Linked DNA regions of Homo sapiens. The protein of the gene in region 6 interacts with the protein of the main gene of each other region in a biochemical or structural test. Each region holds a gene or a part of one and is shown on either strand. Other genes may lie near its edges. The genes, in order: DGKZ, APBA1, TAMALIN, FAM20C, LNX1, NHERF1 and MPP2.

What was found.
Region 1: the proteins of NHERF1 (region 6) and DGKZ interact in a test that uses a peptide from one of them, tested with the Homo sapiens proteins (one large-scale study listed by IntAct).
Region 2: the proteins of NHERF1 (region 6) and APBA1 interact in a test that uses a peptide from one of them, tested with the Homo sapiens proteins (one large-scale study listed by IntAct).
Region 3: the proteins of NHERF1 (region 6) and TAMALIN interact in a test that uses a peptide from one of them, tested with the Homo sapiens proteins (one large-scale study listed by IntAct).
Region 4: of the proteins of NHERF1 (region 6) and FAM20C, one has a biochemical effect on the other in vitro, tested with the Homo sapiens proteins (one large-scale study listed by IntAct).
Region 5: the proteins of NHERF1 (region 6) and LNX1 interact in a test that uses a peptide from one of them, tested with the Homo sapiens proteins (one large-scale study listed by IntAct).
Region 7: the proteins of NHERF1 (region 6) and MPP2 interact in a test that uses a peptide from one of them, tested with the Homo sapiens proteins (one large-scale study listed by IntAct).

Annotation. Positions count from the first base shown.
Region 1 is NC_000011.10:46,350,081-46,354,333, reverse strand, and holds part of DGKZ (diacylglycerol kinase zeta), read right to left. Parts: intron 1-4,253. UniProt on the Homo sapiens protein: Diacylglycerol kinase that converts diacylglycerol/DAG into phosphatidic acid/phosphatidate/PA and regulates the respective levels of these two bioactive lipids.
Region 2 is NC_000009.12:69,428,648-69,431,570, reverse strand, and holds part of APBA1 (amyloid-beta A4 precursor protein-binding family A member 1), read left to right. Parts: intron 1-172; coding exon 173-244; 3' UTR 245-2,923. UniProt on the Homo sapiens protein: Putative function in synaptic vesicle exocytosis by binding to Munc18-1, an essential component of the synaptic vesicle exocytotic machinery. May modulate processing of the amyloid-beta precursor protein (APP) and hence formation of APP-beta.
Region 3 is NC_000012.12:52,013,168-52,017,142, reverse strand, and holds the end of TAMALIN (protein TAMALIN), read right to left. Parts: intron 3,457-3,975; coding exon 3,363-3,456; intron 3,267-3,362; coding exon 3,200-3,266; intron 3,009-3,199; coding exon 2,942-3,008; intron 2,450-2,941; coding exon 1,944-2,449; 3' UTR 1,254-1,943; downstream 1-1,253. UniProt on the Homo sapiens protein: Plays a role in intracellular trafficking and contributes to the macromolecular organization of group 1 metabotropic glutamate receptors (mGluRs) at synapses.
Region 4 is NC_000007.14:254,823-259,075, reverse strand, and holds part of FAM20C (extracellular serine/threonine protein kinase FAM20C precursor), read right to left. Parts: intron 3,228-4,253; coding exon 3,047-3,227; intron 2,423-3,046; coding exon 2,313-2,422; intron 2,072-2,312; coding exon 1,990-2,071; intron 431-1,989; coding exon 371-430; intron 1-370. UniProt on the Homo sapiens protein: Golgi serine/threonine protein kinase that phosphorylates secretory pathway proteins within Ser-x-Glu/pSer motifs and plays a key role in biomineralization of bones and teeth.
Region 5 is NC_000004.12:53,584,504-53,588,756, reverse strand, and holds part of LNX1 (E3 ubiquitin-protein ligase LNX), read left to right. Parts: intron 1-4,253.
Region 6 is NC_000017.11:74,751,509-74,755,761, forward strand, and holds part of NHERF1 (Na(+)/H(+) exchange regulatory cofactor NHE-RF1), read left to right. Parts: intron 1-4,253. UniProt on the Homo sapiens protein: Scaffold protein that connects plasma membrane proteins with members of the ezrin/moesin/radixin family and thereby helps to link them to the actin cytoskeleton and to regulate their surface expression. Necessary for recycling of internalized ADRB2.
Region 7 is NC_000017.11:43,897,176-43,901,428, reverse strand, and holds part of MPP2 (MAGUK p55 subfamily member 2), read left to right. Parts: exon of another isoform or gene 1-145; intron 146-804; exon of another isoform or gene 805-876; coding exon of another isoform or gene 877-958; intron 959-3,048; coding exon 3,049-3,167; intron 3,168-4,253. UniProt on the Homo sapiens protein: Postsynaptic MAGUK scaffold protein that links CADM1 cell adhesion molecules to core components of the postsynaptic density. In CA1 pyramidal neurons, required for synaptic KCNN2-containing channel function and long-term potentiation expression.

The DNA.
Region 1 (4,253 bases), on a different chromosome or scaffold from region 6:
CCACCTATAGTCCTAGCTACTCGGGAGGCTGAGGTGGAAGGATTGCTTGAGCCTAGGGGTTTGAAATTACAGTGAGCTATGATTGTGCCACTGCACTCCAGCCTGGGTGACAGAGGGAGATCCTGTGTCCTACAAAAGACCCCTTGAGGGAGACCAGCCCCCTAGAGCTCCCTGGGTCTACCAGGGATGGTTTTGGCAGCCTGTCCCTCACCCTTTCAGGGCCCTCAGGATGGAAGGAAGGTCTCCCCCAAGGGGATGCCTTCCAGAGGTGGGTGGGTGGTGGCAGGCTGTGTCAGTGGGGTGTCCGTGTGGGTTGGGGAGCAAGAACCAGCTTGCCCCCTTTCACAACCGCCCCCGCCTCTCTCTGTAAAATGTCAGCAAGCTGGGGAAGGGGGCGGAGAGACAGGCAAGCTGTTAACCCGCGAGATGCTGGGGTGTGGGCGGTGCGGGCCCAGGCTCCCAGACAGCTATTTTGGCATGTGCTGAGATGGGCTCATCCCTGGCAGGGGAGAGGCCTCTACGTGGGAGCTCTGAACTGATGCTCTGCCAGGAGCAAGGGGAGGAGGTCTCAGTGTAGATGAGGAGGATGCTGGGGCCCTCCCTCTCCTCTCAGACCTCTCACCATGAGGCACTGGGTACGAGTGAAGCGATCTTCCCTGCCCCAGACCAGCCACCGACCCCTGGGTGGTATGGGGGCTCCTCTGAGCATGTCCATTGGGCTTTAGACTCCCTGCGCCCTTAAAGCAAGGAAAAAGATCAGACTTGTCCTCCACGCCAGACCCAGCCCGGACGCCACATGATGACGGGCTCACAGCCCCAGTCTCTTTACCAAGGGTCTCTCCCAGTCCAGCCTGCTCCCCTGACTTGAGGGATCTTGGTGGCCATTCTCCCTTGGGGGTCCAGGTCAGATTATCTCATGGGTCTCACACCGTTGGCACCGGAGGCAAAGACCTTTCACTAAACCCCATGGAGCACTCAAACCTCTTCTTAGGTCTTCCCAGTTTAGGGATGGCAAATAATAGAAGAAAAGAGTACTCCTAAGTAGAGTGGCCCAATGTCATGAGAAGATCATTGGGCTGGGCTCCAGTGTGAGCTGGGGGATCCTGGCCAGGCCCCTGACCTTTCTGAGCCTTGGTTTTCTTATCTGCAAAATGGGAATCAAACCAACTACAAAGATGTTATGAAGATCACATGAAACTGATGAATTTACAAGCTTCTGGCAGCTGTTAATCACCAAAGACAGAGGAGCTGGAACGCCACTCCTGTCTCTTCAGCCTCTCCCTCCCCTCCGCGGCCACAGAGCCCTTGGTCTCACTCGAACCTGCTTTCCCGACCTAACCACGTCTCTGGTGTTTCAGCGAGGCAGGGGGTGAAGAGGAAAGATGGCAGAATGATAGCTCTTCCAGGGCATTTGGTTAGTTTTGGCCTACCCTCCACACCTGTGACCCAAGTGCCAGCCAAGTCCTGTGCTGAAACCCACACTGCAGGCTGGATGTGGGGCTGACCCCGACACGGAACAGAGGAGAGCCAAGAAGAGCAAGGAATGAGTGCCTGGCACCGCTCAGGGGTGGCCCAGGAACTCGGGGAGCGGAAGAACCTGGCCGCAGGTGTGGCAGATCCCGCTTCCTGCACACACTGCCCCCGCAGCTGACTTAGAGGGCTGTTCAAGGAGGAGGCAGAGGGGGCAGGGAGGAGAGGTGGTCAGCCTGTCCTGGGTCCTGTGATGAGGCCTTAATGAACATGGCCCTGGAAGCCCAGCGCGGGAGTCCCAGATGACCCCGGCTAGCTGCGAGAACTTGGCTGAGTCAAGGCCACCTGGCTGGGCCTGGGCCTCAGGGGACGGGAGGGGTGGGGCCAGGAGGCTAGAGGCACCCACCCAGCCTGCCCTGGGCCGCACTGATTGGCTCCGCCCGGCAGCTAGAGCTGCAGGTAACTTCCAGCGAGTGCCTGTGGGTCCCCGTGGGCCTGTGGACTGGCGGAAGGAGAAGCTCCTCGCCCACCGGCCTCCCACAACGGCAGCTGTCGCCCCCTTGTGTCGCTCCAGAGGCACTGCAGGGCAGCCTCCAGGGGCTGCTTCCACACCTCCCAATTCTCTCCTGCCTTAAAGTGGGTGGAAGGGCTCCGGATCCCTGCTTCTCCGAGGGGCCCGCGCGGCCTAAGACTCAGGGCTAACCTATGACTCCACTTTCACCTCTGCCCCGGGGGGGCCACTGGCGAATTCTGGAGAGGCCTCCAGGGAGCCGAGGAGGGCAGGCCCGTTTCTCTCACTCTCCCCCAGCCCAGCTGCCTGGAGCCTCAGCTTTCTCTCACCAGGGGTCACTTAGTCCTTCCTCTGTCCTTGCCTGAGGGGACACCAACTCTCAAGCTCCTGTGCCAACCGAGAATCCTGGGCAGCTCCACATCCCAGGATCTGACCTTTTTGGAGTATGGCATGGAGACAAAATGACAAGAATTGTCATTCCCTCCCCTGACAGCGTTTGGCACAGAGGGAGACTGTGAGAATTCTACACTGGGTTCCCAGCAGGGGCCAGCTGTATACTCTGGCACCTGACCTTGTGTGGGGAGCAAACACAGTGAGATGAACGCAGCTCGGCCACTGAGGCCCATTTTTCTTTCCCAAACTTGCTGGAACCCAAGGATTCTAGGTTGTCCCTGCCTCTCACAGCAACCTGGGCTGCTCCCAGCATTAGCCCAGGTGAGACAAACCACTCAAAGAGGTTTCCTTTCGCTCCCAGACACCCTGGCACCATAGACAGGGTTCTCACCTCTGCAAAAGAGGCGTCCCTCAACACGTCCCTCCCTATTCATTGCAGAACCAACTCAAACAGGGGCTGCTTCTGCTCAGGCACCCGCTGGGCACCCTCTGCAGCCCTGACTTCAGGGCCATGCTCGCTGGGGCCGTGTGGCAGTGCCTCTAAATGGGACCCATTGTCTCACACTGGTTCTGCAGGTGTGCCTCCTGCCCTCTGGGAGCTTGTGACTTTGAGCACCGTGAAGGGCAGGGGATGGCGGCACAGACGCTCAGGCTCCTAGGGGCTCTGAGGCCAAGGCTCCTTATGTCTACATGTGTGAGGTGCCAGGTAATTTCTGATGCCCCTGGGGTGTAAAACCAGCTAATCCAGAAGCCCTGTGACCTGCCAGGATCAGGCTGCTGAGACCAGGCCAGAGGATAAGCGGGTCCTCCTTCCCGGTGGGTCCTGGAGGAGGAGAGAGAGTCCACTTCTCTCCCACTCCTGGCTGCCCAATCCTTAGGGTCAACAGAAGCTTAAATGGAAAGGTCCTGCCTGCCCTCTGCTCAGGGTAGAGGAAAACTAAATACCCTGGGATCAGAGTAGGGGCCTGTACCTCCTCTCCTCCTCCTCCTCCTCAGGGAGGAGACTGATAGTTCCGGCAAGAAGTAAGGTGGGATGCAGTTGGGGTGGGAGGAATCCACAAGCTGGGGAGAATCATGGCTCACTGAGCTAAAAAAAAAAAAAAAGGGAGATGGCAAGCTGCCACCCCCCGATTCTGAGAGGATGACGCCAGTTGTGTGGGGCAGAGATGGACTTTAAGGAAAAGCCTCTTTCAGCCCCACAGGGGCTGCCATTCAGAGACTGTCCTACCCAGAGGGGCCAGGATGGCAAACATGTGGCCCATGTGCCATCAAGACCCCCTGCCAAGCCCACAGCAGACACTGCTAATTGTTCATGGAACTCTCCCCATGAGCCAGGGCCCGCATGCAGAATTCTCCACCTGGCTTCAGCAGCCACTGCCAACCTAGTTGTTACCCTTGATCTTCCCGTCGGGCCCCTCAACCCCAAGGCTGGATGTGTGTATGTGGGTGGGGTGGGGAGGGGGCGGGATGGGGGACATGGGGTGGATGACTGGGGAGAAGCAAGAGCTAGGTTAAGAGCTAGCATGGAGCTGGGATAAGATGAAGGGCTGGTTTCAGCTGGGGCTTCGAGGACTTTTACCTGAGGCTGCAACAAACAAACAAAGGTAGCAGGACCAGCCAAGCAGCATTGGAGGGGGCAGAACCCAGAGCAGGTGTACTATTCCACCCTTCCACATGTCTGCCCCCAGCACCCACCCCTTGGCCCCATCAAGTCAAAGGGAAGGAGGCCAGCCCCAGTGAGCTCCCAGGCCTGCCAGGAGAAAGTGCTTTCCCTTGCTGCTCTCTGCCTGATACTACTGGGTTCTCTGAATGTATTCATTTCTGAAGGCCCCACTATCCCCAGCACAGTGCTCCCAAACAAAGGACACTCCTTACATGC
Region 2 (2,923 bases), on a different chromosome or scaffold from region 6:
CACTGTTCCTGGAGGCCACCCTGGGTCAGGTCCCTGGTGGTGGCTGGGCGGTAGGGAGTATCTTCAAAGCCCTCTGTGGGAGAGGCACTGCCTCTCTGGCCAGCCCTGGGCAGTGCCCACGCAGCCAGCCCCCAGCCTCAGCCCCCCACTAAAGTGTGTTCTTTACCCTCAGATTCATATGAAGACAATGCCAGCCGCGATGTACAGGCTGCTGACGGCCCAGGAGCAGCCTGTTTACATCTGACCGCGGCCACACGCGGTGGCATGCATGGAGGACTCTCCTCTTCGTGGTTGTGTTTCTCGTGCTGCATCCCTGTGTCCACTGAGACTTTCCCCTCTCGCGCCCAGCATTTGGTTTTACACAGGAAGAGAAGAATCCACAAGGACCTCTTTACTCTCTCCGATTTGCTTTTTTTTTTTTTTTTTTTTCAATACCAGGGAAGTTTCGTATGCACTCCCTTGAGGATGGAGAGCAGCCAGCACCCACCTGGTACTGACCCAGGACCATCCTGGAGGGCTTTCTGGGTGTGTCCAGGGGGTGGGCTGTCACTGCTTGAGGGAGAATCCTCCCTTCCCAGGAGGTGCAGACTTCTTAAAAGGAGCTCGCGGGGCAGCAAAGCAGCTGATTCAGCAGTGCCTAAAACCCAGTTGCTGATCCCTGCTCTCTGAGTTTATCTGTGGGAATGTGGTAGTACCCAGGGCCAGCCCACGTCATTAAGGTTATGCACTGCCTGCCATGTAGTTGGGGCACCATACATTATTTCTTCCCAGAATCTCTGAGCCAACCTTAAACCTCTTCTATTGCTAGTTCTAATTTCAACGTATGTGTGTTTTCTAATACGAGCCTTCTCACCCCAGGATAAAAGGGGAAATAACTGCCTTGGGCAAGGACACCATAGTGTCACAGAGAGCTTGGCAATTCATGGGGCATCTGAAGCTTTACCAGGTTGTCCTCAAGTTATCAACCATTAGATAAACACAGGCAGGTACTGTCTGCTTCTCTCTCTCTCACACACACACACACACACACAGTCCCATTTGCATATCACCCTTCCCTGCTCCCACCACCAGTGAGACAAGCTGAAGATTAGGCACACAGATCCCCTGGAAACCCACCTCTCTGGAAGGCCCCTTCCCTGGCAGGTGGCCAGGCAGGCGGGGGCTGCTCAGCCTCATCCTGAGAGACCTGCCCTCTCTGCGCTGAGGCCCAGCCCCTCCAGCACCACTTTGGCTTAAAGCATCCTCCTCCTGGACTCCCCTCCCTGCCGAACACACATCCCAGGAGTCTGGGAAGGAGGGACTGTTCCCAAGAAGGCAAGCTGCAGGTGCAATTGCGTCTTGTTTTCTGGCCCAAGGCAAGACCAACTTTCTTCTCTGCTCAGGGCCACTAGGCGGATGTGATATTGGAAAGGCCAGAATAGTACATAAACCACAAAATTAAGGAGACAATAGCAACCTCAAGTTATGCCTCAGAATCCCCAGATGTGGTCCATAAACACCCTCTTGCTGCCTTGTGGGCCTGAGAGCATTTTTGGCTGGTGTGGAATTGTTCCGTGTTTTCATCAGGTGCCTCATATTTATGCTTCCGTCTCAGTTCAGTGTAGATGTTTTAGTAATATTATAATTCTGAGCCAGTTTTCACTTGGTCCAAAGAGCATTTTGTGTTCATGTGAGGTGTGATTTGGCTTTGCTTTTGTTTTGTTTCATTCATGACCTCAGTAGAGACAGGGGAAGAGAAACTATTATATTTTGTAATTAATATAGTCCCTGTTCTCTGCATCCGAGATATTTATGTTGTGTCTATGGAAATAGGAACTCAGTGAGCAAATGGTGGGTAGCATGTATTTATAGAGAGAATGGAGGGATTCTAAGGAGGGAGCAAAGTGACTATAACAAGATTAGGGACAAGAGACTTCAACCAGAGAGTTCTGTGATCAATTCCCCGAGATCTCTGCATCTTCTGAGTTTTCTGCTTAGAATCAGGGAAGCTCAGTGCTTGACAGGAACGAGCAGTGGCACTCTCAGTTTCACTGTGTTACAAAGGAGCCCTGAGGAAGGGAGGCCGCTGGCTGCCCAGGTGCCCTGGGGGGAAAGGGACTTCTGCTGCTGCAGAGAGTGGCACCCGGTGGGGCCAGGGGCTCTGGGATGGTCCGTAAAGCTCCCCAGGACTTCTTTGAAGGATGCTTTACAGAATGTTTCTGGGAGACCAGCCTCAAGGTCAACCCATCACAAACGTGAGGACCAGGAAGGAACCATGGCCAGGGTTCTCCATTTGCTGTAGAGTATCTGGTGATACAGTGAGACACTAAAGAGTCATCAGCCAGTTCATCTTTCCTCTGCCAATAAGAGTGGATAGAACAGGAATGAAGTGTTACTGGTGGTATTTCAGGCATCAGGAGCCTTGGAAAATCATCGTAGGGGCCCATGCCTGTCTGTCCCTAGGCACCTGGGCAGTGCCACAGAGGCCCGCCCACGACTGGCCAGGGGACAGAACTCCAGTAGTGCATCCCTGTACAACCTGCACATAACGGTTATGTATGTTCACCTAAAGGAGAGAATATACTTTCTATTCCTATTGCACAAAAACCTTGTAAACTTTGAGAGGTGCTGAAAAAGCCAATTCTGCAAGCTCTCCTAGAGGACTGACATTGTAACATTAGAGTGAGAAGATTTCTCTGCCACATTCTTTTGTGTTAATCCAGGTGTGTCTTCACACCCAGTGAGTGGAAGTTGCTGGAGCTCGGTACAGGTCCACCCAGCTGAAGTGGGTTCTTTTTCCCACTACCACTGGGGCAAGGGAGTGAGCCTAGGTATGGTCACCTCAGCAGCCACAGTCTTAAAAGCAAGTCGCTAGATTTTTTGAAAGTCCCAAGAGAAGTGGTGGTCTTCCCTTCTGTCATCCCAGTATATATAGTTATACATG
Region 3 (3,975 bases), on a different chromosome or scaffold from region 6:
GGAGGAGCACTGGAGCAGGGGCCTCAAGTCCCAGGCCCAGCTCTGACACTAGCTTGCTGTATGACCCGACAGGTCACTTCAAAGAGGTCGTGACTACCACTTGGAGATGCTTGAGCACACACCATGTTGGCACACACTGTATTGAGGGTCTACCATGTGCTAGCATCAGGCAAGAAAAAAGCAGTGAAGACAGACAAGGCTCCTGAGCCCTGTGCAAGAAGCGTGCATCCTCCCGGGTGGGGCGGGCAGGCAAAGATAAACCCATAAAAGTCAAGACAGTCTCGGATGGCGATGCACAGTCTGATGGGAATAAAACAGGGCTGTCACAGGGGAGGGCATGACTGTATTTACCACTGGGTGGGAAGGTCTTCGGGAGGCAGGGCTGAGGACTGAAGGAGCCACCTGTGGGAGGGGTAAGAGCACAGACCCTGATAGAAGGGGTCTGAAGTGTGCCAGGTACAGCCAGCAGCGCAGCCAGAGCGGGGAGTAAGAAGCAGAGGCCGGCAGGGGTCAGACTCTCATCCTGGGAGGCCGGGCGCGGTGGCTCACGCATGTAATCTCAGCATTTTGGGAGGCCAAGGCAGGCAGATCACCTGAGGTCAGGAGTTCGAGACCAGCCTGGCCAACATGGTGAAACCCCGTCTCTACTAAAAATACAACAATTAGCTGGGTGTGGTGGCGCCTGCCTGTAACCTCAGCTACTCGGGAGGCTGAGGCGGGAGAATCACTTGAATCCAGGAGACAGAGGTTACAATGAACTGAGATCGGGCCACTGCACTCCAGCCTGGGCAACAGAGGGAGACTCCATCTCAAAAAAGAAAAATCTCATCCTGGGGTGGGAAACCGCTGAAGACTGCTAGAACAACAGAGTGAGCCGTGATTGGGCCCCTCACAGGCCAGGTGGTAATGCCTCAGGTCCCTACAGATCTGGCTTGTGCCCCTCAAGGGAGACCTCAGAAGCTGGGAAGAAAGGCATGCCAAGCACACGTATTTCTACAGGGATGGCTAAGGACTTGAGGCAAGCCTTGGTCACCACCTGCTTGGGTATCTGGGGAGGGAGGCTCAAGTTGTGAAGAAGCGTGGGGCCTCCAGCTCAGGCCCATACATGTAAGTTTAAATCTCCCAGCCTATTTCCCTGGCTTCAGGCTGCAAGAAAACAAGATGTGTGTGCGTTGGGCGGGGGTTGGGATGGTGGAGTCAGAGCTTGCCCCAGCCCAATCCTCCCCCTCAGGCAGTCACCACACTGACACAGATGCAAAAAACCATCCATTTATACAGTTTGTGGTTCAGAAGCAACAATATGCACAACGGTGGAACAGTCTGTGCTGTCCCCACCCCACCTGAACTCGCCAGTTCCTGTCTCCCAAGGGGCACAGAACACAGGCCCCCTGCCTGGCAGGACCCGACTTAGTTACAGGCCCCTGGGAGGGGCGAAGCCCTTAGGGGTCGAGGCCAGGAGGGAGGAGGACCAGCACCTGATGCCCCTGGGGGCCCGCTGGGTCATGGAACTGTGTGTGTGGAGGGTGGGGGGTCAGCCCACCACGGGCCATTTCTCCCCAAGGCTAAGGGCGGGGGAGCAAGTAAAGCTGAGGAGAGGGCTTCATGGGACAGGGTTCCCATCCCCTGCTGGGAGGGTGTTCCTGGATACCCCACAAGGCACTACAGATGCAGACTGTAGGCGAGCACCCCCATCTTTGGCCCCCGATTGCCTGGCTCTCCCCCTGCCCCAGCTCCCACTGTGGTTTGGCGGGGGAGAAGAGAAGGGGCTGGGCCCCCCACTCCCTCAGCAGACACCAGCCAGGAACCGACCCGGCGGGCCGAGGCTAGGAAGGACCCTCTCCCGCTGCTCTGGGCTCCTGGGGTCCTCTTGGCTCGGCCTCCCCCTCTTTTAGCGCTGGCTGTTGCGAATAAATAAATAAATACCTCCCTGCCCGCCCCCGCCCCTACAGCTGGCTCTCCTCCTCCTCCAGGGAGCGGTTGAGTCCGGGGATGAACTTGAGCAGCCGCCGGCGGAAGCTGCGGTACTTGGTTTTGCGCAGGCCGGGGCCGCATAGGGCCTGCTCGCGAGCCTCAGTCCAGAGCGCGCCCGGCGCGCCCCCGCCTCCGCCCCCGCCAGGGCCCGCGCACCGCACACTGGCGCTGCGGCTCAGCGCGGCCCGCGGCCCAGGGCCCGGCCCCACGGCAGGGGTCTCGGCGGGGCCCGGGCCGAAGGCGCGGGCCGGGGGCGGCGGGGGCGGCAGCGCCGGCGGCTCGGAGTCCCCGAAGAAGCACGTGTGGTAGACGGCGTCGTCGGCGTCGCCCCTGGCCCGTCGGGCGCCTCCGCGGGGACGCCCGGGCACGGCGAGCAGAGGCCCGAAGGGCAGCGAGCCCGGGAGCAGGCCCGCGCCGTAGAGGCAGGAGCGCACCGACTCCAGCGTGTCGTAGATGCTGGGGTCCTTCACCACCAGGCCTGCGCAGAGACGGGAGAGGTAGGGGGCGGGTCAGGCCTGGACCGTGGTGGCCTCTGCAAAGGGTCGGAGGGCATGGGCGGGGCGTCCCCGCTCCGTCCTGCTGACCATCTCTGTGGCCCTGGCCAGGCACAAACCTGAGACCCTACTTCCCTCACCCGCAAATCAGGAATTATCACTCAGATCCTTATGGGGGCCGCTTAGCACAAACGGGCCTCGGAAATAATTGACACAAACTCTTTGAGCCCTGGTGTTCCCCTCTGTAAAGTGAAGATGACACTATCTGTTACTTACCTGCAGAGGGCTAGTGTGAGAATAACCAGAAATGTGGCTGCGGCAGTACCCAAAGTAGTAGTAGCTCAACAAACCTTGCTTTACTGTGGAGGTTTACTAGTAAACCGTTCTTTACTAGAACCCGCCAGTTCTGAGGGGGAAGCGCAGATGGGGTGTCTGTAGCAGAACAAGTGGCCCCTCACACCCCGGGATCTACTCACCATGCACCAGCCGCTGCTCCTGCACCATTAGGGACCTGTACTCTCCCCACTTCTCATACAGGGTTTGCTGCAAGAGACAGTCCCCACCCCACTGTCACAAGCTAGCAGGAAACTAGCAGGACGTGGGTACAGACGAGGGATCAGGGAGTAGACAAAAGAAATCTTCAGTTACAGGAGATTCAGCTGTAAGTGACCCCCCACAGGGCAGAGGCTTGGGAAGAGGAGGGTGGAGGCTGGACGTTATCTAGGTTCCCCTACCTTCAGGTACTGCAGACGAGCCTCCAGTTCTGCCTTCCGAATTGATGTCCCATATAGAGTTTCCAGTCTGAGGTTGGAGAATCAAAGCCTGAGTGAGCCACAGGCTGAGGAAATACCAAGAGGCTGAGCTCAGGAATTCAGGCACCTCGGCTCCCAGACATACCTGAGAACATTGCCTGACGCCTTAATGATGTCCACAATCTCTCGATGCCGGATGCCTTCCACATTCAGGCCATTGACGCTGGCGATGGTGTCCCCTGCCAGGCAGACAAGGGGGTTAGATTTGCTCCATGGGGCATGCTAGAATACCAGCCTCCTACCTTAGCCAGAAAGGGGAGAAGGGTGGGTAGTAACTCCAGGGAATACTCCTGAACTCCCTCCTCCAACTCCTCATGGTTCTCTGTAGATCTCCTCTGACATCTCTCATACTCGATCCAAACACACAGAACCACAGCCATTCTTGTGGGCCTGTAGTGACTACCAGGTTGTCCACGCCCAGCACCCCAGCCAAAGGGTGGGGACCTCACACACCCAACACCCTCACTCTGCCCTCAAGAAGTTCTGTCCGGCCGGGCGCGGTGGCTCACGCCTGTAATCCCAGCACTTTGGGAGGCCGAGGCGGGCGGATCACGAGGTCAGGAGATCGAGACCATCCTGGCTAACACGGTGAAACCCCGTCTCTACTAAAAATACAAAAAATTAGCCGGGCGTGGTAGCAGGCGCCTGTAGTCCCAGCTACTCGGGAGGCTGAGGCAGGAGAATGGCGTGAACCCGGG
Region 4 (4,253 bases), on a different chromosome or scaffold from region 6:
GGGGGTCTGAACCCCCGCAGAAGGTGGCAGTGGCAGAGACCGGCAGCTGCGTGCGGGAGCAGGGTCCCTGTGTCTCAGCTGGCGTCTGCCCTGGCCTCGAGCTCTCTCTGTAACTGGGGTGGCAGGACGGACACAGAGTGGAGGCCCGAGGGGGCTCGAGCTGGATGGGCCTGGGGTGGTGGGCGGGTGAGGTCTGCGCCTCCAGGCCGCCGAGTGAGGGTGTGGGTTGAATTCAGGGCTGTGGTTGAATTCGGGGCCTTTTCTCTCCCATGTGATGGCCGGGGTGGGGTGGGGAAGGCTGTGGCCTCCTCTGTCTCCTGCGCAGTAGGGAGGAGGGTGGAGCTGGAGCCGGCTCCGGCAGGGGCTGTACCTGCAGCACTGCTGTAGCGGCACCAGGATGGAGAGCTCGTCGTGCGAATACTTCCCAAACCTTCCAGAAGAAAAGCAGAATTGTCAAGGGCCCCTGTACAAGGTTCCTAACAGGCTGCTGGGCTGGGAGCTGGGCCATGGGTCCACCTGCCTGTACCCGACACCCCAGGCAGTGGGTCCACCCAGCCCATCTCCAGCACCCCGGGCAGTGGGTCCATCCCACCCATCTCCAGCACCCCAGGCAGTGGGTCCATCCCACCCATCTCCAGCACCCCAGGCAGTGGGTCCACCCCACCCATCTCCAGCATCCCGGGCAGTGGGTCCACCCTGCCCATCTCCAGCACCTCAGGCAGTGGGTCCACCCTGCCCATCTCCAGCACCCCGGGCAGTGGGTCCATCCCACCCATCTCCAGCACCCCAGGCAGTGGGTCCACCCTGCCTATCTCCAGCACCTCAGGCAGTGGGTCCACCCCACCCATCTCCAGCACCCCAGTCAGTGGGTCCACCCTGCCTATCTCCAGCACCTCAGGCAGTGGGTCCACCCTGCCTATCTCCAGCACCCCAGTCAGTGGGTCCACCCCGCCTATCTCCAACACCCCGGGCAGTGGGTCCACCCAGCCCCATCTCCAGCACCCCAGGCAGTGGGTCCACACTGCCTATCTCCAGCACCCGGGCAGTGGGTCCACCCAGCCCCATCTCCAGCACCCCAGGCAGTGGGTCCACACTGCCTATCTCCAGCACCTCAGGCAGTGGGTCCACCCCGGGCATCTCCAGCACCCCAGGCAGTGTGTCCACCCAGCCCATCTCCAGCATCCTGGGCAGTGGGTCCACCCAGCCCCATCTCCAGCACCCCAGGCAGTGGGTCCACCCTGCCCATCTCCAGCACCCCGGGCAGTGGGTCCACCCAGCCCATCTCCAGCACCCCGGGCAGTGGGTCCACCCTGCCCATCTCCAGCACCCCAGGCAGTGGGTCCACCCCGCCTGTCCCCAGCCCTGTATGTGGGGTCCTGGCCTCTGGCCTGGGGAAGGGTCCTGGGCAGCCGAGTTGAGATGGCTCCAGGGAGCGTCAGCCCACAGTTTAGCTATTGAAGTGCCCAAAGTCCATCTCTCTGAGGCCTCCGAGCCTGGGAATGGACGTCCTCCTGCCCGAGTTACTCGCCTCCATGCTTTGCTTATTAGGGGTCACCCTCCCTGGTAACCAGGGTCTCACAGCGCCGCCCAAGACCCCCCGTGGCAGGCCAGCAGCGGCCGCAGAGGCCGCCTATCCCCCGCTGGCTGGCTCCAGGTACCGCGTGCAGGCAGAGGCCCATCTATTCTGCACGGTCCTGCTCTTCCTACCAGCAGCCTCTCCTGGCCTCCGTTTCCCAGGTAACACCAGCTCTGCCGGGACTTGGTCTGCAGCATTCCTGTGCCTCGGAGGTCCCACTCCCGGGGCGGCCCTCCCTCCTGGTTGGGGCCTGGGGCCGCCCTCTGCATCTGGCTCTGAGATGGGCCTTTGCGACATTCCCATCCCTCCACTGGAGGGTCTGCTCCCCCCGTCCCCAGGGTCTCAGGTGGGCTGCAGGTAGCTGGGAGGTGGCCGGCCCTTCCCTGGGTGTGCAGGGGCGAGGACAGGCTCACCCTCTTCCATTGTCTAAGTGGATGATGAACGTTTCATTCCCAAACTTCTCAAAAGTCTCGTAGTGGTGACGGTCCATGTTTCCTGCGGAGAGAGGCAGAAAGTGTCACAGCTCGTGGGGAGCCGGGCCACGTAGCTCAGAGGCCTCTGTGCTCTGCAGAGCGGCGTCTCCTCCTGCCAGCGTGACCTCTAAGCAATCTGGCCCCTTCACAGGCCACAGGACCGCAGCCGGGCCGTGCCACGGAGTGTGCCCTGCAGAGCCCTGCGTGCATCCGCTCCACGCAAGGCGAGTGACACGGGGACCCCGTGCCCCTGCGGGACGTACCCATGAGGAAGTCGAAGATCGTCATGTCCATGACGTCCAGGATGCGGTGGCTGCTGTCGTAGGGCGGTGTCTGCTTCACCTCCTCGCAGTAGTCAGGGTCCACCTCCCACCTGCGGGGAGCCAGCGTGAGACGGGGGGCCCAGGCCAGATTCTGGGGAGCCCGGCGCGTGCCATGAGGAGCAGAAGAGAAACACTGCGGCAGGGACCTTGGCGTCTGCAGATGGACCCGCCCGGGCTGCGGCGCTGAGGCTGCATTAGCGGGAGCACGGGTGTGGGAGGGGACGGAGCCGCTCTGCCCTGCCTCGGGGTGACCCCACCTGGAGCTGCCTTCACCTCTGGGCCCCGTGTTTTTTGCAGAGTCTCTGTGGGGAAACAGGACCTGGACTACACACTCACGAGGACAACGTGGGGCGGAAAGAACAGGGGCCGTTTCTCCCGCAGGAGTGAGGAGAGGGACGGGGCGAGAGCAGAGCTCAAACGCTGAGAGGCCCCGATTCGAGGGACCTGGTGGGCAGGCCGGCCCGGGTCAGGGAAGCACATGGAAATACTGGAGTAAGGACGCCCTCTGCCACCGTCTCATCAGGAAGCGGTCATCTCACACAGGCCAGCATCGCACAGCAGGCTCTGCACCCATCTCTGCCACCCCCGTGGGCGCCGACCCTCCCATGCCCGCCCAGGCCCAGCTCCCTCTGCCGTAGGGTGGCCGGACGCCAGCCCCCCGGCCCCGCACTCACTCGGCCTTCTTGCGCTTGTGGTAGGAACGCCGCCAAGGGTTCCGCCAGGTCTTCCTCTTGGCCAGGGACAGGTCGGGCAGGAAGGCCGCCAGCGAGCCCTCGATCTGGTCTGGCTTCCCGCACAGGGCGTGCTCCGTGGAGCAGTAGTAGGAACACTCGCCGTAGAAGCAGATGTTGTTGGCTGGGGAGGGACAGGCTGCGGGTTACCAGGGCCGCACAGGGCTGCGTCCTCACCTGTGGTCTCACGGCCCCCAAGGCCGGGCCGGGCTCTGCCTGGTGCTTCTCATGGGCAGGACTCACCCACAGTTCCCCATCAATCCCAGCAAACACCTCCACCCCACGGTACAGAAAAATGAACCCACAGAGCTGACGTCCCGAGGCCACACAGCTCCCCAGAGGCAGAGCCCGGCCTGAACCCTCGAAAATCAGGGGCTGGTCTATGGAAACCCTAGGGCCAACATTTAGTCTTTTAAAAAATGCATTCATATTGTCAAGAAAGTGAAGATACAATCCACAGAATGGTAGAAAACGTTTGCAAACCGCACATCTGAGGATCTAGCATTTAGAGTGTATGAAGAACTCTCATCACTCAATCACAAAAAGACAAAAAAAACTAATAAATGGGCAGAGGGCTTGAACAGCTGATTCTCCAAAGACGACCCTGATGGCCGACAAGCATGAGAAGAGACGGGCGCCATCGTGAGTCACCGGGGAGATGCAAATCAAAGCCACGGTGAGGCACCATCTCCTGTCTGCTGGGATGGCTTCCATCAAAAGAGCAGCTGCCGGCTGGGACGGGGGAACCGCCACCTCTGTGCGCTGCTGGCGGGGGGTGCACACGGCACAGCCACGGCGGAAACGGTCTGCAGCCCCCAACTGATTAAACACAGTGTTTCCACGTGACCCAGGAACTCCCCTCCCATGTAAACCCCTAAGAGAAGAGAAAACATTTCTATACAAAAACTCAGACACGAATGCTCACAGCAGCACCGCTCACCACAGCCGAAAAAGAGAGAATCCACCCAAATGTCCATCAAGAGAGGAGTGGACACGCCAGGTGAACATGGTCCATCCGTGCGATGACACGAAACGAAATGAAACAAGAAGAGGAATGAAGCCCTCACTGAACCCGAGAACCCTGTGCTCCGCGAAGGAGGCCAGACAGAGGAGGCCACACGTCGTATGACCCTCTTAATATGAAACGCCC
Region 5 (4,253 bases), on a different chromosome or scaffold from region 6:
GCTTGCCTACGGAGCCCTAAGGGAGAACCTCAACCCCCCTGCATGTCAGTTTCCTTAGCTACATTTTTCCCCAAAGGACGCTAAAATGGTGTACTTCACAGGCCCCCTCCATCCTTACAACTGAAGCAAGGTGGGCTGCATGTCCAGGTGGGTAGGTCAGACTGACTGGGGGGACTGGGTAGTGCCTCACTAGAAAATATCAATCTTATTCATTCCATTCTAGGTGGGGCAATGCTACTGCTTTAGAATAGTGGTCTGGTCTCTGGCATCAGGCTGCCTACCTGGGTTTTTGAAACCCAGATCTACCATGTGCTACCTGTGTGACCTGGGACAGATTCTTTAAGCTGCTCTCATCAGCTGTGTAATAGGGTTATCATGAAGATGAAATGGGTTGAAATGTGTAAAGTGCTTGGAATGGTACCTGCCACAGTGTTACTTGTAAATATTGAAAGGAAGGCATAGTTGATAGTATCAGACAGGTCTGTGTATCAGACCCAGTTCTACCATGTAGTTGCTAGCCTAAATAAGTTCCTTAATATTTCTTTGCTTTGGTTTCATCAGCTGGGAAATGAAATACTTCCCAGACTCAGAGCTGTTGGGAGGAATAATTGAAATAATTACATGGAAAGTGCCTGGCATATTTTAAATGTTCAGTGAGTGTTAACTATTGTTATATTATTTTAAACATTTTTATATTGCTTACAGTTAGACATCTTAGGTCATGCTACTATCTGGATGTAATAATGATGGAAACGGTAGTACGTTGAGGGCCAAAGACTGAGCAAAAAAAGATTTCCCAAAAGGCTCCCAAAGGCAGAGGAGGAAAACCTGTTAACAAAGATTGTGTTGTTTCTCTTGGAGTTCCAGGGTAGAGTGGCTGCCAGTGGAAATGCCTGGTCTTTCATAAACCTGTGGGGAGTGGGCTTCTGTGATGTGAGTAAACAGCGGGTCTTCCTGGAGCGGTGATTTCCTGGCTTCACCTGTCACTGTCTCCTTGTCTCCAAGACCTTGGCTAAGACTTCCTTTCTATATTTGAATTCCTCACTTAAAGTGGAGAAAATAGGGTCTGGTGGGATCTTGACTACTTTTTTTTTCCTTTCACTCTCTTGACCAGGATACGATCTTGACTACTCGAAATGCCGTCTGTAAGATGCTGGCAAGGCGAGGACACATAAGAGATGCTCTAAAGTGTGTCCTCCTCATTGCCTCAGTATTCATGGACTTCCCAGTAGCATACAACTATTCCTAATATTTATGTACTGACATTACATAGACTCTCTTTTATGTGGTTGGCAAATTTATTGTCCTCTGACAATGCCTCCAAAGTATCAAAGGCTTTTCAAAACTGTTTGGAAGGAAGACTGTGTCACTGTTCCTGGGTTAATATGATTTAATCATTAACTATCCCCAAAGAATAGGGTTGACATGAAAACCATAAAAAAACCATAAAATGTGGAAAACTACACTGAGCTGAAATCAGGAACAGAAAACGTTTGTTGTCTCCCGTAAACTTTCTGTGTTTACCCTTTCCTCCATTTTGTTCTGTGTGACATGAGGACACCACAGTGACCTATTTGGTTAGTTACACAGATACACACTTCAGATCAGTAAGAGGAAGAACTTTCTATGAATTAGAGTTGTCCGAAAATGTAGTAGGTTGCCTTTTGGGATACTGAGTTTCTTGTCACTGAAGGTGATCATTTTTTTTGGCATATTTAGTGCATGGTGTATGTTTGCTGGATGAGTGAATGAATTAATAAATGAATGACAAAGAGGATTTGTGTTTTTCAGCTGCACATACACTCATCTGTAAAGTGAAGATTACCTTAATGATCTCATAGGATTATTTTAGATTAAATGAAAAAACATGTTGAATACCCAGCACAGTATCTTGCATATTGCAAACTGCTCATTAAATAGTAATAATCATTATTTTTTATTTTATATTCTAAAAAGAATTTCTGCCTCAGGTAGAAGGTAGACAAGATGATCCACCAATTTGAGATTTGCAGTTTTTACAATCATCTGTTTACTCTTGTTCTCTTTGCCTTTGCCCTTCTTCACCTATCCATCTGAAAGAACTTCTCTCTGCTCTAGAAAGCCAAGTTCCTTGGCATGGTAGGCTGACTAGTACACTTCTAACAGTGGGAGCAAGTTCTATCCCAATTAACCGGGGACATTTTTGGTAACATCACTAATTTGTGACTTAGAATATGTGGACTTAGACTCCATGATTTTTTTCAAGTGACTCTTATTTGCTTCTTGTGTTTGACGCATTTGTCACAGGCACACAAAAGACTTCACCAGCAGCAGAGTCGAAACTCTCCAAGAATTTTCTTTAATAGCTTCTTGGCACAATAGCACATGCATGATGGGGAGGTCTAAATATGTCATTGCTATCTGCTGAGATGATTTGCATAACTTGCTTATGACTGCTTTTGACAGTCACGTGGCCTTTTCTGAATAGAGCGCAGCATGTTTAGGCTCCTGCATACTCGCATGAATACATGAGTCACCATGTGTTTTCAGACTCCTCATTAAATATGATTGTCTGACTTATATTACATCTTCCACAACATACACACACTCAGCCATTCTATCTGTGGCCTTTTTTTTTTCCCTTGAGGCCCTTTGCAAATTTAGTCTAACAGTCATCTCTGAAAGCATCTGTATTCTAACTTATTAATGAATTAAAGGGAAATTAATACATTTTCTAATAGGGTAGAGTTGCTAAATATGTAGCAATCTATGTGGCTGCTGTCTCCAAATATTTTTCCCTATTTCTAAGCCCTATAGAGAAGTGTTGGAAAGGATCGTTGGGAGCATTCACCCCATTCCTGCAGGAATACCCCTGGAAATATGTAACCCCTGTATTTCTAGGGCTGCCATAACAAATACCCATAAACTTGGTGGCTTAAAACAACTCCCATTTATTGTCTCACAGTTCTGGAGGCTGGAAGTTTGAAATAAAGGTAACAGCAGGGCCACACTCCTCTGAAGGCTCCAGGAGAGGGTCTTCTCTGGTCTCTTTCAGTTTCTAGTAGCTCTAGACATTCCTTAGCTTGTGGGTGCATAATTCCAATCTCTGCCTCTCTCCTCACATCACCTTCTCCTCTGCGTTTGTGTCTTCTCCTCCTGTCTTATAAGTGTCTAAGGACATCTGTCATTGAATTTAGGACCCACTCAGATAATCCAGAATGATCTCATCTCAAGATCCTAAACCTCATGACACCTTCTTAGATCGTTTTCCTGTAAGGTCATAGTCACAGGTTCTGGGGTTAAGACATGGATATATCTTTTGCAGGGACCCTCATTCTACCCACTGTATCCCCAGCTGACAACCATATACACAAGCTCTTCCAACTACTTATGGAGAGATTTCTTGTCCACTTGGAGGCTGAAATACTGAGCAAAGTACAGGCAAGGAGAGTCAGAATTGGCAGCCATCATCACTACCTTCATTTATTTCTATGTTCATGCCACAGTAGTAAGTGTTTTGTACTCTAAAGGCCTACTGAGTTCTTCCAGTCAACAGTGTGAGATATCTAATAAGACAAAACAGTAAAAACCATCATAGATTGCATTAGTAAACACATAGTATCCTGGTTAAGGAAGTGATCACTCCACTGAATCCTGAGTCCTCCAAACCAAAACAGGATAACTTCACTTCCAGGTACGGGTTTTCAAAGGGACCTTAACAAACTAGAAGGCATCCTGGGTAGATCTTTTACCACCATCTGGACTACCCAGGAAGACAATTGGAAGAACCAAAGACAAAGATAAAAACAAGGGAGGAACCACCCAATGCTGTCTTTAATTTGGGGATGTGTGTGTCATGTTTTGAGTAAGCAAATGTGATATACGTTACACTGAAAGGCAGAACAAGGCCAAAGGTCAAAGTAACGTGGGAAGCACTAGCTATTTGAAAAACTGACCAGTTCTCCATCAGTGGAAGTGTTTCAGATAGAAGCTGGTAGGTGCTGTAGGGATCTTGAAAAGAGGATTTTTCTACTTGGTGAAAATCTAAGTTCCTTAACCGATCAAAATCCTATGACTTCTAAATAAATCATTTTAAAACCTCACATAGAGGTCGTCATATGGGTCACATCAAGAGATCACTACTCTTCCTTGATTGACACATTTGCTCAGGTTCTTCTCACCTGGATTACTTCCCACTTGTCCAGATCGCATTTATCATTCGTGATCCTTCCCAAGGACCGTCTATCCCATTAACTTTCCTTGATTGTTCTGGG
Region 6 (4,253 bases):
TCTGGCTGGGAAGACCAGCTGTGTCCAGAACCACTCAGGGCAGAGGCTGAGGGGTGCCTGTAACACTGGCCATCCCCGCTGGGGAGTCTAGGCCTAAGGAGGTGGAAGTGGCTCTCCAGCTCTGCCCACCGGCTTTGCTTTGTGGATGGCCTTCCCCGCCTGCCCCGTGGGGAGAGAGGAGCAGCAAGACCCGCCCTGCTGTTCCCCTGCTTAAAGCCCTCCTCCCCCCATTCACCACCAGTCACAGGATGAGGCCTAAACCCTTGAGTCTGGGTTCAGAGTGCCGGCCGGGCAGAGCCGAGCCAGCTCAGCTGTACTAGCCAGGCTGTGCGAAGCCAAGTTACCTCACCTCTGTAAGCCTCCATTTCCTCTTGTGTAAGTTGGGGGTTATGGCAGCTACCTCGGAATTGCATGAGGCTGTGTGTAAAGCACGTAGCTCAGTGCCTGGCACTGAGTCCAGGCTCAGCCAGCCTTTGCAGTTGGTATTGGAATGAATACATATTTCATAGTGATCATTGCACACCTATCATGGGGCAGCTAGCGCTGGGTCAGCCTGCCTAGTTGGGCAAATGCCACTGTGGCCAAGCCTGGCACACAGTCAGTGCCTGATCGATGGTCACTGTGGGTTAAGAATGATACGTTGTGGCCAGGTGTGGTGGCTCACACCTGTAATCCCAGCACTTTGGGAGGCCAAAGTGGGAGGATCGCCTGAGCCCAGGAGTTTGAGACCAGCCTAGGCAACATGACAAGACCCTGTCTCTATTAAATTTTTTCTTTTTTTTTTTTAAGAGTTATATGCTGTTCCATGGCCCTTCTCCATCTGGCAGCCTGTTCTCACCACTGCCTCCCTACCCCCAAAACCACACCCAGGGTCCGAATTCCCCTCTAGCCTCTAAGCCTTCACACCCTGACACTTCTGTCCCCTCCCAGGGAGCCTGTCCTTAATCCAGTAGGCAGAGTTAGCATTTCCTTTCCTTCACTTTTTTTGTTTTTGTTTTTGTTTTTGTTTTTTTTGAGACAGATTCCACCCAGGCTGGAGTGGTGTCGCAACCTCGCCTCGCTGCAGCCTCGACCTCCAGGGCTCAATCGATCCTCCCACCTCATTCTCCCTAGTAGCTGGGACTACAGGCATGCACCACTATTCCCAGCTAATTTTTAAATTCTTTGTAGAGATGGAGTTTCACCGTGTTGCCCAGGCTGGTCTTGAACTCCTGGGCTGAGGTGATCTGCCAGCCTCGGCCTCCGCCTCCTCTTTGTCCTTACATCTTTTATCGCTCTAAACACACAATATTTTAATCATCTGTTTGTGACCTTTTTCTCCACTACGTGGTAAGCCCAAGGGCATCAACTGTGGCCTATTTGTGTTTCTATCCCCAGCGCTGTCCTTGGCACATGGTAGGGAGGCTCTCAAAAACAGTTTTTGAATTAATGAATGAATATATAACAACAGTCAGGGACCTTTGTCCTCATTCAGCTCATCCCGCCCCGCCCAGAGATTGGAATTCCAGATAGAACCTACCCACTCTTCTTTCTTGCCTGCTAGCAGCTTCTATTTGAAAACTAGAAAGCCAAAAGTCCAGGCTTTGGGGTCAGCCAGATCAGTGTTTGAATCCCAGCTCTGCCGTGTGCTGGTTCTGGGATCCTGGGAGTTCATTTTTCCCTGCAACCCTCAGCCTCCACCTCTGTGAAAGGCACTGCCTGCAGGGTTATTGGGAAGATTTGGTGGCATGACAGGTTTGTAAATGAAAGTGCTAGTTTGGGGTGTTTCCTGCCAGCCCTGACCCTGATCCCAGAGTCAGAGTGCAGGCACCCCAGGGAGCAAGGTGGGTGGTGGGGCACAGTTAGCTGGAGGGCCATCAACCTCTTTCCCAGGGCGGGCGGGCCATTTTACACCAACCAAGTTGGAGCTCTGGTAGGGCAGAACAGAGCTTGAGCTGCTGGGTGTTTGGATTTGAAATGGACAGGGTATGTGATTGTTTGTGTGTTGGGATCTCTTTCTTTGCTGGCAAAACAGTGTAGCCCCTGGTTCTTACCTTCAAGCTCCTGTTAACTCAGTAATTCTGGAGATGATTCTCTTGGAGATAGATGGGGGCTTCCTGGCCGGGCGCAGTGACTTGTGCCTGTAATCCCATCACTTCGGGAGGCTGAGGCGGGAGGATCGCTTAAGCCCAGGAGTTTGAGACCAGCCTGGGCAACATAGTGAGACCTCGTCTCTACCAAAAAAACAGGGGGAGGGGGGTGAATGGGGGCTTCCTTCTCAAGGAACTCCATATGTCTAGATGGGGTCCTTCTCCCCTTTCCCAGATGTCCCATCTCAATGGTCCCTGGGAAAGTGGGGTGGGAAATTAATAAGAAACTCAGGCCAGGCACGGTGGCTCACGCCTGTAATCCCAGCACTTTGGGAGGCCGAGGCGGGTGGATCAGTTGAGGTCAGGAGTTGAGGTCAGGAGTTCAAGACCAGCCTGGCCAACATGGTAAAAACCCATCTCTACTAAAAATACAAAAATTAGCGAGGCGTGGTGGCAGGTGCCTGTAATCCCAGCTACTCGGGAGTCTGAGGCAGGAGAATGGCTTGAACCTGGGAGGTGGAGGTTTCAGTGAGCCGAGATCGCGCCACTGCACTCCAGCCCGAGCAGCAGAGTGAGACTCATCTCCAAAATAAAAAAAAAAGAAAGAAGAAGCTCAGCCGAGGTCTTGTTGGTGCTGCAGGACTCTTTACAGGGAGAAACCAGAGCTCTAGACCCCAATAACAAATGTTCCTCTGTTTTCGTTGCTCTAAGATAGAGTGGCCCTACCTGGAAGGAAACAGGTTTGTACAGTGCCTTTAGGCACTCTACCTATGACATAAAGATGTTGACATGCATTTCTTTCTTTCTTTCTTTCTTTCTTTCTTTTTTTTTTTTTTTTTTTTCCTGAGACAGTCTTGCTCTGTTGCCCAGGCTGGAGTGCAGTGGTGTGATCTCGGCTCACTGCAACCTCCGTCTCTCAAGTTCAAGCAATTGTCCTGCCTCAGCCTTCCATGTAGCTAGGATTACAAACACCCGCCACCACACCCTGCTAATTTTTGTATTTTTAGTAGAGACGGAGTTTCACCACGGTGGCCAGGCTGGGTGGCACCTGTCACAACACCCTGCTAATTTTTGTATTTTTAGTAGAGATGGGGTTTCACCACATTGGCCAGGCTGGTTTCAAACTCCTGACCTCAGGTAATCCACCTGCCTCGGTCTCCCAAAGTGCTGGGATTATAGGCATGAGCCACCACACCCAGCCAATATGCATTTCATTGTCCCCCAGACAAATTAGCTATTGTTTTCTCTATTTTGTAGGTTGACAGTAAGTGTTCAATACATGATAGCTACTATTTGTGTCTAGCACTGTGCTAAGTACTAACCTTGCCTGTCTCATTTAATCCACATGACCACCAGTGAGGCAGATATTGGCCCCATTCTCTGCCTATGGAGGCTGAGGCTTGATCAGTTAAGGTGGCCATGGCGGGTCCCAGGACTCTGAGCTAGCGACTCCTCCCACACAGCGCAGGGGTGTGTCTTGGAACCCAACCCTCTGACTCTAGTGCCTGCACAGCCATTTGGCCACATGAGTAGGCTGTGCTTGAAGCCTGACTCTGCCAGGTGTTTCTGCCCATCATATTCTGAGCCACAGCTGGACCATCACAGTGGTATAAATTCAGGCTGCTTGAACTGGCTTCCTGTAAGGATCCAGGGCTTCCAGGTGCTCCTGTCCCTAGCAGGGCATCCTTGCAGTGCCTCAGCCCATAAGTGGCAGGCTCCTGTCCCCATCCCTTCTCACGTGATGTGATAGGTCAATCTGGAATCTGGTAACCAAGTATCTACCCCCGCCCTCACTCCCCAGAACCTGCACAGAGAGCCCCCCTCAAGGGTGGTCTTCACTGTTGACCGAAGCCTTCCCCTCATGGTAGGACAACTCACCATGTCCCCAGACTCCTAGGCAATGTTTAGGTCCCTAGGCCCTAGAAAAGGACAAGAGTTACAGATTCCCTGAGGTCCAGGTCACCTCGGGGTGGTGTGGGAACACACAGAGAATGCTGGCCAGGTTCAAGTCCCACTCACTGCTGGGTGCTGAGAGCTCTGAATTCTCCGAGACAGGCTGCAGCCTCTCCCTGTGCTAAGGTCAGGGGAACAGCAATGGCCAGGGGTATTTAGAGGAGTGTGTTTGGGGCAGTCTCAGGCAGCACAGGTCTGTGCTGTCCGGGCAGCAGCCACCAGCTTCGCGAG
Region 7 (4,253 bases), about 31 Mb from region 6:
CCTGTGTGCAAATGTGCCCTCATTTTTCCTTTCTGGGGAACTGAGTTCCAAGATGCCTGACTTGCTTCCTGGGCATCATCCCCTTCATTAAGAGGAAGAACTCATGGGAGATGGGGGAGGGGAAGAAGCTGCTGTGAGGCGAGGGGTAAGCAGGGCTGGGGCACCATCCCTACCCACAGCGATGCCACCTCCCCCACGTACCCTGCCTCCCAGTGGCTGACCAAGGGTGGGTAGGGGGAGGCGTCTGAGGCTTGAGGTATTTGCCCCATGCCCAAGTGAGGCTGCCTCCCGGTGGAGGGCTGAGTCGTTCTTGGGGACTTCCTTAGACTGAGGGACTATTGTAAAGGAAACAGGGCCTGGAGAGGGGACTGAGAGCAGAGGTCAGAGGGCATAGGGAGGAGGTGGCATGGGGTGTATTAGAGGAGGGGCTTCTAGAAAAGAGGGTACAGGGACAAGATGGGCCAAGACTTTTCTCCCTCGGGTCTCCTGAAGCTGGCTGTGAGGGGAGGGTCTCGGAGTACCGCGCCAGTCTTGAAGGGGCAGCATGCCTACCCCCTCCTCAAAACTTCCTGTTAGCCGCCTCCTCCCCATCCCCACCGACACTGACATGCTGGGGATCGGGCAATCTGTGGGACTAGGGCTCCCTCCCACCACTCTTCTCCCACCCGGGTTACCGCCTGCTCTGCACCGCGCAGCGCCAGTCAGGGCTTTAGCCAATCAGCAAGGCGGTCACGGCGGCTGAGCCTTCCCATTGGCTGGTTCCTCAGAGGGCGCTCCTCGACTCCCGCCTTCCCCAGCCCGGCCAGGCTTTGGCTGGGGAGGCGGTAGACGGCGGCGTGTAGGACGCTCCGGGAGTCCCCGGGTCTGGGGGCCGCCATGGCAGGCAGCCCAGGCAGCGGGGTCTCCTTGGAGGGTATATCCCTGGAGTCTTCTGAGGAAGCGGAGCTCCAGAGGGAAGGTAGGGAAGGGCGGGCCAGATGGGGGCGGGGCAGCTGGCCCCTTAGCCTACCTTCCTCCAGCAGAGTCGGGGCATCTGGGGAGGGTGGCCTGGGAGAGGTCATCTGAGGGCACCTTCAGGAGAGCTGTCCTGGGCAGAGGGCACCAACTCCCTTGGCTCAGTCCTCCCCTAGATAACGGAGGGAATCTGGCATACCCTGGCAGGAAGGGAAGGGTCCCTGCCCTGGCCTCTTTCAGAGCCCACTGAGGGCCTCGCAGGTCTCTGACCAATGCCAAGCCCCGGCCTGGGCAAGAGGGGTCTGAAGGGCAAGCTTGCACTTTTTTTTCTGGAGAAGGCAGGGAGCAGGAGGAGGAAGGAGATGGGAGTCCAGGAGTCCCTGAACCATCTCTGCCAGCTCCAGTTCCAGTGCCCCCTCCTCCCCACTCCTGTTCCTTCCTGGAGGAGGGGGGCACTGACAAGAGCATTGAGAGGCGCCAGGGGTGCATCCTCCGCCGTCCTCCGTGGCTTGGGTACTGTTATGCAGATGTAGGCATGGGCGGCATGGTGGCAGAGTAATGATACCCTTCGCCCATCTCTGCCCCCAGCTGGGCACATTCTGCTTCTCGCTTCCTTTCCCCGGAACTTGCCACAGCCTGGAACTCCCACCTCTGTCAGTGAGTGAAGGCAGCCCTCACCTCAGGTCTCGGGGGCATTGTTGCGGCCCAGCTGCAGGTGTTATCGTGTCCTCCATTATGTCCCATTTCGGGCTGAGAGTTTGCTTATCCCTGTGATGACTTGGTGTGACCTCAGCCTTTGGGTCACACCAAGGCCTCCAGTGCCTGTTTCCCTAGCTCCTGCCAGCGTTCCAGGCCTCAGCTTTGACTTCCTATCATCCATGTTAATTTCTCAGTGATTATAGATCATTGTCACTCAGAGCTGAAGGCCTGTAAACATCATCTAGCCCAATCCATCCATTTTACAGGCAGGAAAGACTGAGGCCAGTGAGGGACAGTGACTTGTACAATGTCACACTGAATTAGTGGTGCTTAGACTGGAGGCTGCAGGCCCTGGCTCCTGTGTGGCTGCCTGCTTGACTCTGGGCCTGTACTCACGGACTTGCTCCGAGTACTGTCTGTCTCATCCTTGAGCCTGCCAGGTACAGGTGGCTGAGCCCTGGGCTTCAGCCCATCTAGAGGTTGAGTGAGGAGCTTGTGGTTTTCTTTTCTTTTTCTTTTTTTTTTTTTTGAGACGGAGTCTTGCTCTGTCGCCCAGGATGGAGGGCAATGGCAGGATCTCAGCTTACTGCAACCTCCGCCTCCTGGGTTCAAGCGATTTTCCTGCCTCAGCCTCCCGAGTAGCTGGGATTACAGGCGCCTGCCACTACGCCCAGCTAATTTTTTGTATTTTTAGTAGAGACAGGGTTTCCCTGTGTTGGCCAGGCTGGTCTTGAACTCTTGACCTCAGGCAATCCACCCGCTTCGGCCTCCCAAAGTGCTGGGATTACAGGCGTGAGCCACCGCGCCCGGCCAGAGACAGTCTTGCTCTGCCACCCAGGCTGGAGTGCAGTGGCGTGATCTCAGCTCACTGCAATCTCTGCCTCACAGGTTCAAGCAGTTCTCCTGCCTCAGCCTCCTGAGTAGCTAGAATTACAGACCTACACCACTATGCCTGGCTAATTTTGGTATTTTTAGTAGAGATGGGGTTTTGCCTTGTTGCCCAGGCTGGTCTTGAACTCCTGGCCTCAAGTGATCCACCCAACAGCTTGTGGTTTTCTGGTGCAGGGCAGGATCTGCAACCTGACACCTGCTTCCCTTTCTCCCTTCTCTCCACCTCAGAGTCTCTTCCAGCTGCCTGGAGCCTCCCACCTGCTCAGGCTGGCATTACCTAGGGTGGAGAGAACAGGCCAAGGAAATTGTCCCCTTCCTCCAGGATCCCTGTCCCAGGCATTCAAGGGCCTGGGGTGCCTGTGCTGGGCAGGGAGGGGAATGTTGCCGGGGAGGGGCTGCCTTCTGTGGGACATGGGGGTGGGGAAGTGGCAAGTATTGTGGTGTGTTTTGGTCTTCTGTACCCAGCTGGTACCTGTGTATCTCACTGCCCGTACCTTCCCCCAGCCATGCAGCAAGTCCTGGACAACTTGGGATCCCTCCCCAGTGCCACGGGGGCTGCAGAGCTGGACCTGATCTTCCTTCGAGGCATTATGGAAAGTCCCATAGTAAGATCCCTGGCCAAGGTACAGTGCTCCAGGGAGGTGGGCACAAGGGCACTGTGCTTGGGGAGGCACAGTAGGGGATGGGGTATTAGCTACAGAGGGCTTTGGGAATGGGACATGTGGCACAAGAGGCCCCCCTGAAGGGGATTGTAGAAGAAAATCATGCCCAGGTGATGACCTGAGTGGCTGCAGGTAGAGGGGGCTGCCCCCACACCTGTCTGGTGAGTGCGTGGGTGGATGTTTGTTGACTGCCAGCTTGTGGAGTGTGTGATTGGTGCGGGCTAGCATGCACATGTTGGAGAATCTCTAGAATTCATCTTGCCTGTCCTTCTGCCTTTGGGCGTTTTGTGTGTATGTCTTTCTAAGGTCACCTGCCATGTATCAGGTTGGGGAGAGATTGACTAAAAGAGAAAATTATAGGACAATTTGGTAATGACAGTGATAGAGGTGGATACACTATGCATTTTGGGAGCATAAAGGACAGGTGTCTAACCCAGCCTGGGGTGGGTGAGGAGGGCTTCCTGGAGGAAGGACCACTTGAGCTGAGTGGAAGAATGAGGAAGAGGGGGAGGGCATTCTGGGCCACAGAAGAGCTTGAGCAGAAGCACAGAGGTAAGAAAGAGTCAGGAGTGTGCAGGGGATTGGAAGGGCTGGTGTGAGGCTGAGCCTCAAGTGTAAGACAATGCGAGCTGTGCAAAGGTTGGCAGGTCTGGAGGGCACTGGGGGCTGTATGTGGGTGCTTGGGCATCCTTCTGTGAGTATCAGGGAGGCTTTATGGTTTTTTTTGTTTTGTTTTGTTTTGAGAAGGAGTTTTGCTCTTGTTGCCCAGGCTGGAGTGCAATGGCGTGATCTTGGCTCACTGCAACCTCCACCTCCTGAGTTCAAGTGATTCTTCTGCCTCAGTCTCCCGAGTAGCTGGGATTACAGGCATGTGCCACCACGCCCAGCTAATTTTGTAGTTTTAGTAGAGATGGGGTTTCTCCATGTTGGTCAGGCTGGTCTCCAATTCCTGACCTCAGGTGATCTGCCTGCCTCAGCCTTCCAAAGTGCTGGGATTACAGGCATGAGCCACTGTGCCTGGCAGGCTTTACATTATTTAAGCAGGGA